2 separate regions of the Homo sapiens genome follow, and region 2 is linked to region 1. Evidence: fine-mapped expression QTL. Tissue or cell type: T cells. Region 1 holds a variant in brackets; the other region holds the start of a gene. All regions are shown on one strand. Distances are from middle to middle.

What was found. PIP is the estimated chance that this variant, and not a neighbour inherited with it, causes the effect.
Region 2: NSG1 starts here. The variant in region 1 is fine-mapped to the expression of NSG1 in T cells (TOPMed, PIP above 0.99). The same link has a PIP of 0.9 or more in blood mononuclear cells.

Annotation. Positions count from the first base shown.
Region 1 is chr4:4,342,988-4,351,167 of GRCh38, reverse strand. No RefSeq gene overlaps it. Among named protein-coding and RNA genes, the nearest start is that of NSG1, 40 kb to the left of the region's middle. The variant T/G (reference allele first, on the strand shown) is at 3,811.
Region 2 is chr4:4,383,599-4,391,778 of GRCh38, reverse strand. NSG1 (neuronal vesicle trafficking associated 1) reads right to left here and starts at 4,677. Exons shown (of 5, transcript NM_014392.5): 1 at 4,606-4,677; 2 at 4,021-4,175; 3 at 188-304. The coding sequence starts at 4,149. LOC112268462 (a long non-coding RNA gene) reads right to left here. Exons shown (of 3, transcript XR_007058004.1): 3 at 7,170-7,257.

The DNA.
Region 1 (8,180 bases):
TGTGTTCTCAAGTTATGAGATTCCTAACATTCTGATACGTCTATGTTGTCACACATAATTATAGTTATTATGTTAAATTATTGTATGCCACAGAAATAATCAAATTTCCTTGTTAATTACATCTTTAACTATAGCTACCCGAAGTCTTTTGCCATTCATAGACAATTATTGCTCTATTTTGATTCTTCTCAAAAAGTGATTTACAACTGGCTGCAGTTCAAATTTGCTTTTTCTTCAAAGAGATTCATGGAAAAGGACCCTGGCCCTGTACTCTTTTTTTTTTTTGAGACGGAGTCTTGCTCTTTCGCCCAGGCTGGAGTGCAGTGGCCTGATCTCAGCTCACTGCAAGCTCCGCCTCCTGGGTTCACGCCATTCTCCTGCCACAGCCTCCCGAGTAGCTGGAACTACAGGCGCCCGCCACCACGCCCGGCTAATTTTTTCTATTTTTAGTAGAGACGGGGTTTCACCGTGTTAGCTAGGATGGTCTCGATCTCCTGACCTCGTGATCCGCCCGCCTCGGCCTCCCAAAGTGCTGGGATTACAAGTGTGAGCCACCGCGCCCGGCCGGCCCTGTACTCTTGAATACAGGTTTTTGATAACTTCAAAGATCGTATCATTGGACCAAGTAAAAACATTCAGAACTCTAATAAACTAATGCATTCATGAAGATTGCTAACCCAACATCAAGCAAGACAAGAATTAATTACATGGGACTGAACTGATAGAGGACTGAAATGACTTTTATGATTTTTTGCCCAAAACATTGCTGATTCTTTTTATATTTTGATTTCCACAGTCAAGAAAACTTTTCTCTTTTGAACTATTTGTAGCTTATAGAAACTGGATAAAATATACCTTTGTAAACAAAATGGAAACATTTGCCTTTATCTCTACCTGATTTCCCCAAAACTTGGAAAATCTTCATGAGTATTCGTATTTTATGGCAATCAAGTTATTTGCATTAGTTCAGTAAGAATCTGTTTTCTGTCACAGGATACAATTTAAGACAATTTTTTTTTCAAATCAAGATTCTGACTGGAATGACGTATTTTCAGATATGATAACACTGCTTTGAGGAATTGAAATGGACTTTATAGAGCTGATAAAAAGCCTCTTGGCAAAACTGGCCTGCTATCTTGTCTACATAGTTCCCTTTCAAGGTTTCTAATCTTGCAGTAAATAAAGAATGTGTCTTTCTGATATGCCCAGGAACCAAAAGATATTTTGGGGACCTTGGGAAGAGAGAAATTCACCCAATTTGTACAAGTATTACAGGTGCAGTCTAGCGGTGAATCCTTGGTTTGATGTCCTAGCCTTGAGACTTTTAAAAGTCTAATCTGAAATTCCTTCTGAACGTTCCAGCAAAGTCAACTTAAAAGGGTCTATATGGCCAATCACTATTCTTGCTGCACTTTATGCAAATAATCAGGCCAAGTATAATACTAAACTTTGGTAAAAATAGGGACTGGAGAAAAAAGTTAGGCTCCTGAAGAAAGCTATAGAACACCTGTTATTAGATTCCAGCCCCCGACCATTGTTTTTGAGTTCTTTTATTATTTTCCTACAATTTGAACTGAATCCCCAATGGAATAGGCTTTGTTACTATGTATCTCTCAGGGTTTTGCTTCTTCCAAGAAAACCAGAAAATGATATTCTGAAGAGTGGAGATGATTCAACAAGCAACAACAGCATTTATATAAATCAGTGGCTTGAATGAGGACTACCCAGGAATGAGACTTCCCAGCACTGAGGGATGAAGGACATCTATCACTGCCACCTGCACAGAGACTGATCATCAATGCTGCCATGGGAATAATTTTGATCAACAGGGGGGATATGAGAAAAGAAAAATAGCTCAGAGCAGGCTGAGAACTGAGAGATCTGCAGACCCACAGAGACATGGGTATGGAATTCCAGTCATTCCCTGGCCCCCTGTAGCCGGTGCCTACACCTGGGGACAATTGTTTAAAGTTATTTTGTTCCTACCGGTTGGGCGTGGTGGCTCACGCCTGTAATCCCAGTGAGAGGTGAAGCCAGCTGGGCTTCTGGGTTGGGTGGGGACTTGGAGAACTTTTCTGTCTAACTAAAGGATTGTAAACACACCAATCAGCGCTCTGTGTCTAGCTAAAGGTTTGTAAACGCACCAATCAGCGCTCAGTAAAAACGCACCAATCAGCACTCTGTAAAAACGCACCAATCAGCACTCTGTGTCTAGCTAAAGGTTTGTAAACGCACCAATCAGCACTCTGTAAAAACGACCAATCAGCACTCTGTAAAATGGACTAATCAGCAGGATGTGGTCAGGGCCAAATAAGGGAATAAACGCTGGCCACCTGAGCCAGCAGCTGCAAACCGTTGGGGTCCCCTTGCAGGATGTGGAAGCTTTGATCTTTGGCTCTTCACAATAAATCTTGCTGCTGCTCACTCTTTGGGTCCCCACTAGCTTTATTGTAACACTCACTGTGAAGGTCTGTGGCTTCACTCCTGAAGTCAGCGAGACCACAAACCCATCGGGAGGAACAAACAACTCTGGACGCGCCACCTTTAAGAGTTGTAACACTCACTGCTAAGGTCTGCAGCTTCACTCCTGAAGTTAGCGAGACCACGAACCCACTGGAAGAAGAAACTCGGGACACATCTGAACATCTGAAGGAGCAAACTCTGGACACACCATCTTTAAGAACTGTAACACTCACCGCGAGGGTCCGTGGCTTCATTCTTGAAGTCAGCGAGACGAAGAACGCACCAGAAGTAACCAATTCCAGACACACCAGCACTTTGGGAGGCCAAGACCAGCAGATCACAAGGTCAGGAGTTCAAAACCAGCCTGACCAACATGGTGAAACCCCATCTCTACTAAAAATACAAAAATTAGCCGGGCGTGGTGGCGCATGCCTGTAATCCCAGCTACTTAGGAGGCTGAGGCAGGAGAATCGCTTGAACTCAGGAGGTGGAGGTTGTGGCGAGCTGAGATTACACCATTGCACTCCAGCCTGGGCCACAGAACAAGACTCTGTCTCAAAAAACAAAAAAAGAAAAGAAAAAAAAAGTTATTTTGTTCCTGCCTAGCTGCCTCACTCATTATCTTCATGTTCCTGAAATGTGTGATAAAAAGAACAACCTATACCCAATCAAAACTTGTTATTTTACTACACGTTCTTGATAAACAACTCAGGAACTGCCTCTTCTTTTCCTTTAAAAATTTACTTTTAACTGCTGCTAATTGGAGTGTATATTCAGAGCAATTTGAATCTATGCTCCTGGGATGCAATCCTCAAGCTTGGCCCAAATAAACTTTGTACTTAAATGAATGTTGCCTCAGCTTCTTCCTTTTAAGTCAACAGAGGCAGCTGTGTTCCTCACTAGGGGTCTGTTTTCTAGGTAGATAGGGGAGCGTCAGAGAATAGCCTCCTCCAGTGCTTTGAGAGAGACAGAAGGTTGACAGGCAGGAGGAGAGGGATCAGAGAGACCTTGAGGCTGCTTCTTCAGGTCTGCATGGGAAGTGTCATATTGTGGGGAATTGTTTTCTGTGCTCCAACAATAGTATATGACATGGCCCCATATCTGTCCCAGAGAGAGGCCCTTGTCATACTTGGAAATTTTTCTCTTTATGACTCTTGTCATGAGTATCTCAAGTCCTTTTATTCTGCACAATTTTGTACACATTTGTGGTCCCACTGGATATACAATTTTGCATCCCTTCTCACTTAGCATAAGCATTCTTCTAAGTTAGCAAAAACCCTTTTATTTTATCAATGCCTATGGTTAGACATTTAAGCTAGTTTTAATTTGTTTCTGCCACTGTTTTTT[T/G]TTTTTTTTTTCAGATGTTGTAACAGCATCTTTGTATAGAAATTGTGACCACATCTCTGATTATTTCCTTGGGAGAGAGTTTTAGAAGTGGAATCATGGAATCAAATGGAATGGATCTTTTGGCCGCCCCTGGGAAACACTGTCCAATTGCTTCCCGAAAAGAGGCCACAGCAATGTAGGAAAGTGACTGTTCAAGAAACAGTTTCCAGCATTCACAATTACCATTTACAAAAACTTTCACTAATGAAGGCCAAGAAATGGCATCTTACATCAGTTAGTATTTATTTGATCACCAGGGGGTGAAAACATTTGCAGGCATGTTAACTAGTAATATTTTCTTCTGTGGGTTGCCTGTTAATTCTCTTTGCTTCTGACCTTTTATTTATTTTATTATTTCAATAGTTTTTGGGAGTACAGGTGGATTTTGGTTACATCACTGAGTTCTTTAGTGGCGAATTCTGAGATTTTAGTGCACCCATCACCCCAGCAGTGTACACTGTACCCAATATGTTGTCTTTTATCCCTCATCCACCTCCCAACCTCCCCCGATCCCTGCCCCAGCTTTTGACTTCTTAAAAGTACAACAAAAGGCCTGGCGTGATGACTCACGCCTGTAATCCCAGCACTTCGGGAGGCTGAGGCAGGCGGATCACCTGAGGTCGGGAGTTCGAGACCAACCTGGCCAACATGGTGAAACCCCATCTCTACTAAAAATACAAAAATAGCCGGGCATGGTAGTGCATGCCTGTAATCCCAGCTGCTTGGGAGGCTGAGGCACGAGAATTGCTTGAACCCAGGAGGCAGAGGTTGCAGTGAGACGAGATTGCGCCACTGCACTCCAGCCTGGGCAACAGAGCGAATCTCTGTCTCAAAGAAAAGAACAGAGATGCAGAGGCCAGGTGCGACGGCTCATGCCTGTAATGCAGCACTTTCGGAGGCCGAGGCAGGTAGATAGCTTGAGCCCAGGAGTTCGAGACCAGTTTGGACAAAATGGCAAAACCCATCTCTACCAAAATACAAAAATTAGCCAGTCTAATAACCTGGTCTCAAAATAAATAAATAGATTAAATTTTTCAAAAGAAAAAAAGAAAGATGCAGAGACAGACCCAGAGGAAGGAAGGCCATGTGACAACGGAGGCAGAGACTGGAGCGATGCAGCTACAAGCCAAGGTGGGCCAGGACCACCAGAAGTGGGAAGAGAAGAGGAAGGGTCCTGCCTTAAAGTCATCAGAGAGAGGACGGCCCTGCCAACACCTTGACTTTGGACTTCTGGCCTCCAGCACTGGGAGAGAATACATGTCTGCTGCTGAAGGCCACCCAGCTTGGGGTCATTTGTTCTGGAAGCCCCAGGACACTGACACAGGGCTTATGGCTGTCAGGGCAGGCAGGACGGTGTTGGCCAGGTGGCTGAGATGCAGCAGAGCTGGGTACATGTGGGCATCAGGGAGACTGGACTCAACCCCAGCTCTGCCACCCGGAGCTGACTGGCTTTGGATCAGCTATGTAGCCTCTCTGTGCCTCAGTTTCCCTTTCTGTAAGTTGAGGATACTAATAAGTGCCCCGTGAGGCTGCTATAAGAGTTGAAGGAGATGATGCAGCAAACTAACACAGGAACAGAAAAACAAACACCGCATGTTCTCACTCATAAGTGGGAGGTGAACAACGAGAACATGTGGACACAGGGAGGGGAACATCACACACCGGGGCCTGTTGGGGGTGGGGGTTTAGGGGAAGGAGAGCATTAGGAGAAATACCTAATGTAGAAGATGAGTTGATGGGTGCGGCAAACCACCATGGCACATGTATACCTATGTAACAAACCTGCACGTTCTGCACATGTACCCCAGTATAATAAAAAAGTATAATAAAAAAGAAGAAGAAAAAAAAATGGGAGGAGATGATGAATGCCTGCAACACCGGCCTCACACACAGTAGATGCCCAGATATTGTCATTCCTTTTCTTCTCCATTGCCTGGGCCCCAGCCTCATAACAGCCTGGGTTCAAGGCCAACTCTGCCCACCTCAGCTATATGACTCAGCAAATCACAAACCTCTCAAAGCCTCAGTTTCCTCATTTGTAAAAGGGCGCTATTAAGAGATCAAATGAGACATTGCATTCAAAGTCCTTCACCTGTTCCCCAGCTCATAGGAAGATCTCATCTGAAAGTGGTTAAGCAGTCTATGGCCATACCACACTGAACGCACCGGATCTCATTTAAAAGTGGTTAAGCAAGCGGCCAGGCGCGGCGGCTCACACCTGCTTTGGGAGGCCAAGGCAGGCGGATCACGAGATCAGGAGTTAGAGACCAGCCTGATCAACACGGTGAAATCCCGTCTCTACTAAAATTAGCTGGGCTTGGTGGCACGCACCTGTAACCCCAGCTGCTCAGGAGACTGGGGCAGGAGAATTGCTTGAACCCCGGAGGCTGAGGTTGCAGTGAGCTGAGATCGTGCCACTTCACTCCAGCCTGGGCGACAAAGGGAGACTCCATCTCAAAAAAACCAAAAACAGACAAAAAAAGAAAGCGGTTAAGCACATTGAAACTACTATATGTTGAAGGACTATAGACCTGTAACACTTTGCCCTTCAAAGCGGGGTCCATGAACCACGGCATGGGCACTGCCTGGATCCTGGATGGAAGCGCAGAATCTTGGCCCGCCTTAGAGCAGATGAATCAGAGTGTGCCCGTAATGAGACCCCCAGGTGAGCTGTATGCACAGGATTCGGCGTTTCCAACCTCTCACCGCTCTCAGATGCACCCAGGAAAGTGCTTTGATCACAAAGTCTCAGACCTCCACCTAGGACGAGGTAATGTGGATTCACTAGGGACAGAGCCTGGGAAGCTGCGTGCTCAACAAGCTCCCGAGGTGATTCTTCTTACCTGGACGCCTGGGAAACACCTAGCAATGAACCAGCAGGAGGAGGCTGGATAGCCTGGCCAGGAGTTTTGTTGATCATGGTAGCCTGGCCAATTGGGTGGGCATGTGGCCTAGGGAAGGGTTAAAGAGACCAGATGAGAACGCTTGATCCTTGGAGATCAAGGCTGCAGTGAGCCGCGATTGCACCACTGCACTCTAGCCTGGGCAACAGAGTGAGACCCTGTTTCAAAAACAAACAAAAAAAACACACACACAAAAAGCCAGGTGTGGTGGCTTATGCCTGTAATCCCAACACTTTGGGAGGCCGAGGCAGGCGGATTGCCTGAGGTCAGGAATTCGAAACTAGCCTGGCCAACAAGGTGAAACCTCATCTCTACTAAAAATACAAAAAAATTTAGCTGGGCATGGTGGCACGTGCCTGTAATCCCAGCTACTAGGGAGGCTGAGACAGGAGAATCACTTGAACCCAGGAAGCAGAGGTTGCAGTGAGCTGAGATTGTGCCACTGCACTGCAGCCTGGATGACAGAGCGGGACTCTGTCTCAAAAAAAAAGAAAAAGAAAAAAAAAGTACAGTACAGCTAGGAAGCTAGGAGCCACTGATGAGGGCGAAAGTCCTGGAGGGGAAATTCAAGAAAGGATGAAGGACGGTGAACCAATCCAGAGCAAAAGTAGGGCCTGGTGCGGTGGCTCATGCCTGTAATCTCAGCACTTTGGGAGGCTGAGGCAGGTGCATCACTTGAGGCCAGGAGTTCGAGACCAGCCTGGCCTCGTGCCAGGCCTCGTTCAAGCCAGCCTGGTGAAACCCCGTTTCTACAAAAAGTATGACAAATTAGCTGGGCATAGTGGTGCACACCTGTAATCCCAGCTACTTGGGAGGCTGAGGCACACGAATTGCTGGAACTTGGAAGGCAAAGGTTGCAGTGAGCCCAGATCACGCCACTGCACTCCAGCCTGGGGTGACAGAGTGAGACTCTGTCTCAAAAAAAAAAAAAAAAAAAAAAAAAAAAGCAAAAACTGCCGGTTTTGTCTGGATTATACAGTACAGCTGGCCTCACACACAGCAGGCATTTTGTTGATCACGGTCGTCTGGCCAATTGGGAGGGCATGTGGCCTGGGAGAGGGATAAAGAGATCCGGTGGCAAAATGTCCAGCACACAGAGGGAGGAAGAGTAGTTCCCCAGAGATGTGCTGAATGAATGAATTAGCGAGTGAGTAAAGAATGAATGAATGAATGATCAAATGGCAACAGAACCCTAGAAAAGGATGGAAACCTCTCAGGATTCCTCTAAGAGTGTCCTAGCCCCTTGGGGCAACAGTATCTGCACAGCCAAAGCCTGTGCTTCATCTCTCGGCCTGCATTTCCTGCCCAAATTTAGCTAATAGGCATGTGAGTACCTAACACACACCAGGCTCTGAACTACACACCATGGCATCTGTCATCGCGTTCAAGCTCCTAAGCCCCACCACAGCCCTCCCCGAGGTAAATAAT
Region 2 (8,180 bases), 41 kb before region 1:
AAAGAAATGTACAAAAAGCACAAGGACAACATCTTGGCAGGCAGTCACAAGCTACTGGGTGTGCACAGCTGGGATGAGCCCAGACAAACGGCGTCAAACCCTGGCCCTCCCTGCAGGGCATCTATGCAGCTCAGCAGACCCCTTCTGGGGGCAAAAGCAGCATCTCACCCAGCACAGGACCACTCACCTTAAACCTCTCGGTGACACCCTCCGTGATGCTGACGGTGAACTCAGCAATTTGGGGAGGACGTGCTTTCCCTTTCTTGCGGTCAGGTTCATACTCGGTCTTAGTTTTCACGACCACCTTATCCAGGAAACAGAGAAACAAAAGTCAGATGCATTCAGACATATCTGCCCAAAGAGGGTGGGTCTGGGAACTCCCATATTCAAAGTCACCATTTGCCAGGAAGAAATTCACAAGAACGAGAACAGCCACTACTTTTTGGAAATCTCCTCTGTGGCAGGACTTTCAGAGAAATGACCCATTCATAATCCTGATAGCAGTCCCAGGAGGGAAATATTATAACCGAGGGGCACAGAAGTTAAGCTCATTGGCCAAGGTCATGCGGTTTATAGGCGGCAGGGCGGGGATGCAGCCTGGCAGCTGACTCCTAACCCAGTGCTCCTTCCACCCACCAGAGCCAAAGCCTGGCTTGGCCCAGGAAGCTGGGAGGCTGCACCTGCCTTTTCACTGGCCTTGCTGTGCCACCATGGGCACAAGAAGAGGAGGTCTGAGGGTACTGTCCACAGCCCTCCAGGACTGGCTGGAGAAGCTGGCCACCAGCTTGTCTGGAAACAGATCCAGGATCAACCTCTTTGTCTCCACCCCCACATCCTCCTCTCCCCCTGCCCCTGCCACAGCCCCCAAAGGGTCTCCCTGCTCTCATTCCCCTCCACCCCCTACTGTGAAGCAGAACGATGTTTGTCCAACCTGGAAACCAGCCCTTGCATCTGCCCTACACCCCAGCAGCTTCAGATGGACCCAAGAAGCCTCCCAGCCCTGGACACTCACAGCCCTGGCCTCAGCGGCGCTGCCTTCATCACTCACCACACCCGTTGCCAGGGACTGTTTACTTCTCTGTCCCACTGGACTGGGAGGTGTTCAAGAGCAGGGTCAAGGTGTTATAGGTCTCTAATCCCCAAACCCCGCTCCCCAAGCCAGGTTCCAGGAGAGGCTGTTGCACTAGAGACAGCCAGCCACCTCCAAGCTCTTTCTCCCCCGAGGGACGAGGCCCCTTCATTGGGCAGTCCGTCACCTGCTCTCCACGATGGTGGGGACCAGGACAGAACAAAGAGACCCCAGCAACTGGGGATGGTCAGCCCCAGGCGGGCAGCCAGAGGGCCTCTCATCCGGTGCTACGACCCCCAAAGCCAGCCTTGGGGAGAAAGAACAGCGGAGCCCATTCCAGGGTCACTGAAAAATGATCCCAAGAGCCATAAACCTTGTAACCACACTCTTGGCCTCTGACCCCAACTCCTTTTCCACCCAGTGCTCCTGCGGTGGAGAGGGAGGGGTGCCTGGCATGGGTTGGCCTGGGCACCCACCCCTGTGAGGCACTCATTGCTTGAGGCAGTGGTTGGGTGTCACCCTGCCATCCTCAAACCCCGACTGGACCCAACTAGCCATGTGACCTTGAGCACGCAGGCCTAGACTGGCCAATGAATGGGAAATAAGGCTACTGCTGAGGATGAGGAAACCCATGGAAACCTCTCCCGTATGTGGGGGCCCCATCAATATTCTGTCGACCTGGATTCTATCCCCACCTGCCACTAACAGGCTAGGTGACCTTGGGCAATTCTCAAACTCTCCGTGCCTGCATTTCCACATCTGCAAAATGGGGGTAACATGGTAGTGACCTCATGGCATTATCAACACATTAAAAGAATTTAAACCTGTAAAACTGGCAGAATAGTTCCTGGTGCAGAATAAGTGTCTGGCAAATGTCAGGGGAGACCAGCCCTGACTCTGCTGCCAGCACTGTGACTGCTGTCACCGCTGCACCCCAGCACCTCAGCACTCCATACACGTTCTCAGAACAGATTCTCATTTATAACCCAACTGTGTCACCACCCCTCAGAAGCCATGTCACCTGAAACAGGTGACATCGCCTCCCTGAACTCTGACCGTTAGCAACACGTTGCTGTTGTTCAGGTTAAGAGAGGTCTTACGTGAGAGACATCTGGCTCCAAGCACAGTGGAGTAAGAGGCACTGCCAGAAACTTCTGCATCCTGGAGGACTGTAACCTTCAGCCCAGTGACCTTGGGTATGTCCCATAAATGCTCTGAGGCTCAGTTCCCTCATTGTGACCTTAGAAGCCTTCTGGAAAATGATCCCAAGAGCCATAACCCTTGTACCCACACTCAGTCCCGGCGGGAAGTCCGGGATGGAAGGTCTGGCTGGACCCGAGAAGAGCATCCCTGCTGGCTGCCCCGCTTCGGACGCTTGCAGAGAGAGCAGACTCATCACCTTTCCGAGCTGCCTAGGCTACTCCTGGTCGACCTAATTAGTTGGTGAGGATTTCATACCTGCCTGAAACCCTCCTCCCTGTATAAACCAACTGTGCCAAATGGTTCTGGAATGGAACAGACTGAGGACAAGAGAGGAGGCTCAGGCCAAGTGAGGGGAATCACCTGATAGAGGTGCTGCCTCAGGACACGGAGTTCCTGGCACAGGCGCCACTGCTCCTCAGCCGAGCAGCTGGGGGCCCAGGCAGGAGGGGGTGTGGGGGCCTCGGGGCCAGGCCCCGCTAACTGGACGAGTCTGATGCCTAGACAGGGAGGGGTGGAGTGGAAGCTGAGGCCTCAGGCAGCCCTGCCCCTCCTGCAAAGCCTAGCCTGGACCATCAGTGGCCCAGAGTGGCACCACCGTGGCCTGGGGGGCACAGGTGTGGCCGGCTGATCCCCCTTTCTTGAACTGAAACCCCCGCTGCCAGCCTCTTCCCGGCTCCTGCCTCCCTCCCCAGACGACACACACAATAAAGCTGGGAGGACACCTTCACAGGGGTCAGGGCCCCCACCAGGACACCCCCACCCCACAACACCCACCCCGTCAGCAATCACCAACTTGCTGGAACGAAGACAGAGCCCTGGCTCAGAGCCCCTTCACCAGGGACTAAATGAGAAAATAAATAGAAAAGCACTTCCGGGAATTATTCGTGGCTGTGGTGGTTCGTAAGCGGCAGCAAGATGCTGAGAGTAGATGCTGTGTCTATGGTCTTAGATGTGAATTTTACAGTACAATTGCCTAGACATGCAAAGATCTATTTACATTTTTAAGTGTTAACTCTTGGAAATATTATTCTTAGCAAACAGAAACTACTTAATTGGATGCTACATTCAAAAAGAGGAGATTCTTTAAATTCAGCAGAAAACACTTTGGGGAAAGGTTGATGAATGGTTTTTCCCAGTGACACCAATACTGAGCGAGCCCGGGCACTTATTTGGAGATTTCACAAAAGGAACAAAGAGGAAGGAGACCCTGTGTGAGCGCGCACACCCTCCTGCACCTAGCGCCAGCCTGGCAGGGGCAGGCAGAAAGGGCGAGAACAATTCAGCCCTGGGGAGGGGCCATCTGACCAAGGAGAACGCTCCCCCGCCTCGGTGGGGCAAGTCGGGCTGAACTGCCACACCCGGGAAGGTACAGGGGCAGCCTCGCCCGCCCCTAGGCTCACCCCCGATCCAGAGCCCCTGGGGCCACGGGGCAAGGGAGGAGCAGGGCAGCTGCGGGGCCAGGGCCCTCTCGGATGAGGCTCCCAGGAAAAACGCGAAGGAATCTTGCCCCACCGCGTTCCACTGTCAGGACGAGAATATCATCTAAGGCAGGGCTCCCCTCCCCCGCCCAGCATCCCGCGATCCAGAATCCCGCGCGGGTACACTGTCCTCGCCGCGCTCCCTCCGGCCTCCCGAGCCCGCCCCCACTTCGCGTACCCAGCGCACGCGGCGCGTTTCTTTTGTTGCGCCCGCCGTGCGAGATTTGGGGGTGCACACCCGGCAACGTGGAGGGGCGTGGGGGGGCTTACCTTATCCGGGGGCGGGAACTGCAGCTGATTGACATCGAGGGGCGTCATCAGGGGAATGGTGTCGAAGCCATCCTCCAGCAGCGGCTGCTTGGTGCCCTTCTCTGCGAAATTGTTCCCCAACTTCACCATCGTTCCGGGAGCTCCGAGGCTGCAGCCTGCGGCGGGAGGGCCGGGGGGAGTCACCACAAGCAAGACCCGGGGCGGGGCGGGGGGGAAGTGGGCACCCACACCCACCGGCGTCCCGGCGTCCGCGAGCTCCCCGGCCCCGCTTCGTCTCGGGGAGGGCTCGTGGGGACGCGGTGGTCACGGCCCGATGCGGGGGTCGGGTGGTGCTGTGTATTTCTAGACCCTCATCTCGCAGGACCCAAGCGCCGGGCGCAAGGGCGCACCGCGGCCAGGGAAGGGGGCGCCGCCCCTGCCCAGCACCTCCAGACCCGGTCCCCGGTCCTGGGGCCGCCGCACCCGGGCGACCCGCTGTTCACAGCCCCGTCCCGCGTACTCCGGGAGATGGGCATCCCCCGGGCACTGCTCCTGGGCGGGCAAGGTCTGGCCTCGGCAAGCCCAGGCGCGGCCGGCCGCACTCACCCACGCCCGGCTCCGGCAGGTCAGCTGAGCGCTCCGAGCTCCGCGTCTCCTGCTCCTGCTCGCAGCAATGGCGGAGGCGGCGCCGCGCGCGGACCCGGGAAGGGGAGCGAACGATTGGGCTCCACGGCCGCTCCCTCCTCCTCGCGCCGCCGCCTCCCTTCCTGCCTCTCCCGGGGGCTGGGTGCGCGCGGGTGGGTGCGCGCGTGTGGCCGCGCCTCCACCTTGACGCAGCGCCCGCCCGGCCGCACAAAGGAGTGCGGGGCTGGGCGGGAGCCTCCCCTGGGACCACGCGCCCGCCCTGAGCCGGGGGAGGGAACAGGGGAGCGGGAGAGGACGCGCCCCCAGGGGGTCTCGGAGCGGCGGAGGGCGCCCGGAGCGGGAGGGCTGCGGGCTGCGCCACCCCGGGCGGCGGCCTGGGCGCGAGGCGCTTAGAAAGGAGAAAGGGGAGGCGGGGACCGTAGGGACAGAGCGACCCCCAGGGGTGCGGGGAGGTGCAGAGAGGGTCCCCGCCCGCAGCGCGCCGCGCTCACCTGGGGGTCCTGAGGACGTTCAAGGGTTTGGGGGGATGGGTCCAGGAGGCGCTGGGTGGTGGCGGAGACCAGAGCAGGGTGCTCCTTAGTGCTGGGTTGGGGAGGGGGCGACCAAAAGAGGGCGCGTCCGCGTATAAAGGGGGCGCGGCCCGTAAAGGAGGCGCGGCCCGTAAAGGAGGAGGAGGTTTTCGGTGGTGCGGGAGGCGGAGTAGCGCTCTCCCAGGGCTGGGGTGTGGGCGCCCAGGGTGAGGCTGCCCCAGGCAGCGGGAGGGAAGTCGTTCTAGGCAAAGAGCGCTCAGTGCGCCGCTTGGAGGGAGGCGGAAAGGTTCCTCCGCTCTGGTTGGCAGAGAAGGTGGAGGTCCCACTGCAGCCGCCGCCCGAGCATCCTGGGCACAGAGGAGGGGCCGCTGGGACGATGCCCGGACGCGGAGAGAAGGGGGGTGGTTCTAGCCCGACCTGCGCCCCCAAACCCCGAGCTCAGCCGCTGTCGCGGCTTCCCAGAGAGGGTCCTGTTTGCAGACCTCCAACCCGTCCTGCCTGCAGGACTCACGGATGAAAGACTATGGGGTGTGGGGGCGAGGCCGAAATGGGAGTGGAGCCCGCGCGGGAGGAGGCCGGCTGCGGGGATCGGTGCCTCCTGGGCACCTGGGCCAGGAGCTGGGCCCTGTCAGGCGCTGGACGAGGAGGAGGCATCACCCAAATTCGATACTTTTTCACACCCTTTCCGGGGACTTCCCCGCGGCACTACGGAGGGTCCGGGGCGTTTTCCATCAGCCGTCTGAGAATCCTGGGAATAAGCCCAGAGCACAGGAGCAGCCACCGCCTTGAGCCCCAGGCACAGCCTGGGAACTTGCCGCGGGTGCCCTGATTTCAAAATCCCCAGGAGGGCTAGCCGTCTTTGACAGGTGACCTAGTGGGTATCTCGTAACTCGCCCCAACTCTCCAGCCAGGGTCTAAGTGTGCCTTTGACCACAGGCCAGCCTGGTCTGAACCCAGGCTCCTGGCAGAGGCACCCCGCCCCCAACCCAGGGAAAGCGGGTGTCAGACTCTGGCCCCTGCCACGGGCCTCGGGGACCCACAGAACCCACCTTTTTGGCACTTTGATGCCTCCCTGAAGCAGGTGAAGAAGAGAAGATTTCTCTTGCTCCACTTCAGAAATCTGCCCAGGCATCTGCCATGAGAGTGACCCACTGGTCAGGAGAAACCCTTTGGGCTTAAGCAAGGAAATGGCTTTCCCGCACCCCCCCCCGCCCCGCCCCCCGTCTCAGGCTCAAGCATTTAACAGAACCCAACACACACGCGCGCGCGCAAACACACACACACACACACACACACACACACACACACTTGGTCAGAATTCCACACCAGGAGGAACAAAGTGGAGGCCCTGCCCCTCCCTTAGAGACTCTGTCAACTGAGGAGGACAGAAAGGCAAGAAGGACCTAGGTTGTCCCAGAGATGGACGGTGAACAATCATGTTTCTCTGCTAGCTGGCCTTTTGTGCTGTCTTGGGTCTTCACTGGTGCTGGTCATTGGGACTGTTTCATCCTGTGGTTTTCTTCCTCTGCTGATTGTATCTGGGCCCTGTGAAGGGCATGGACAATGCAAAATGCATGAGACACAGCGCCACCCGCAGGGAGCTACGGACAAGGGCAAGTCTTTGCTGGGAGCAGTGGCCCTGTGGGAGAGTGGCCTCTGCCTCTTGCCAGGAGGGAGGACATCCAGAGACTGTGGGTAAAGACTGTGGATAAAGCTTCCTACAGGTGGGCCTGAGAGAGGTGCGTGCAGAGGGGAAGGCATTCCAGGTAGGAGAACAGAATGTGTTAAGACAGTATATGAGCTTCCTGCCACTGTTGGAACAAATTTGGCTTAAAACAATAGAAACATGTTCTCTCCTGGCTTTGGAGGCCAGAAGTCTAAAGTCTAGGTCCCAGCAGGGCCTCACTCCCTCTACAAGCCACAGAGAAGAACCTGTTCTTTCCCCCTCCAGCTTCCAGTGGCTCCAGACATTCTTTGACTGTGGCTGCATCACTCCAATCTCTGCCTTCATGTCACTCCAGTCATATTGCCTCCTCCTCTTCTCTGTGTCTCTTATAAGGACACTCATCATAGGATTTAGGGCCTGCTGGGATAATCCAGGATAAGGTCTCCCTCTCAAAATCCTTAACTTAATCCTATCTTTGCCATATAAGATAATGTTCACTCTTTTACTATGTAAGGTAAATCAGGTTCCCGGGGTTAGCATGTGGACATATCTTTTAAGGGTCGCCATTCAGCTCACTACAGGCATTAAGCTTGCAAGGGTGTGGTGATTTGGAGAACCCAAGTCATTCACAGAGGGTGGCAGAAATTAGGTTGAAGAAGCCACAGCCACCAAAATGGGGATGGCTGAGGCTGCAATGGTGGTTGCAGGTCAAACAGATGTCAGGTATTTTCACAACATACAAAAAGGGAAAATCAATGGGATGCGATCTCCCCCTGGACCAGTTTCATCCCAGCACCAACAATTTAAAATCCAAGTGCCACAGAAGATTGTTGACACATACTCAGTTTTTCTAAATGACTCTTTTTTTTTTTTTTTTTTTGGGACGGAGTCTTGCTCCGTCGCCAGGCTGGAGTGCAGTGCCGTGATCTCAGCTTACTGCAACCTCCGCCTCCCTGGTGCAAGTGATTCTCCTGCCTCAGCTTCCTGAGTAGCTGGGATTACAGGCACGTGCCACCACTCCCAGCTAATTTTTGTATTTTTAGTAGAGACGGAGTTTCACCATATTGGTAAGGATGGTCCTGATCTCCTGACCTCGTGATCCACCTGCTTCAGCCTCCCAAAGTGTTGGAATTACAGGAGTGAGCCACTGCACCTGGCCCTAAATGACTCTTTTAGGAATACTTCCAGGGTTGCTGATCTCAGGCACAGACCCATCACTGCCTGTACGATTGTAACTCCTACCCTGCTCCCTCTCCTCAGGGCAGCCAGGCGCTGCTCTCTAATGACCCTGGTACTTCCAGGTCCAAGCGTTTTAGCAACTTCCCTTGTCCCACTGGTTG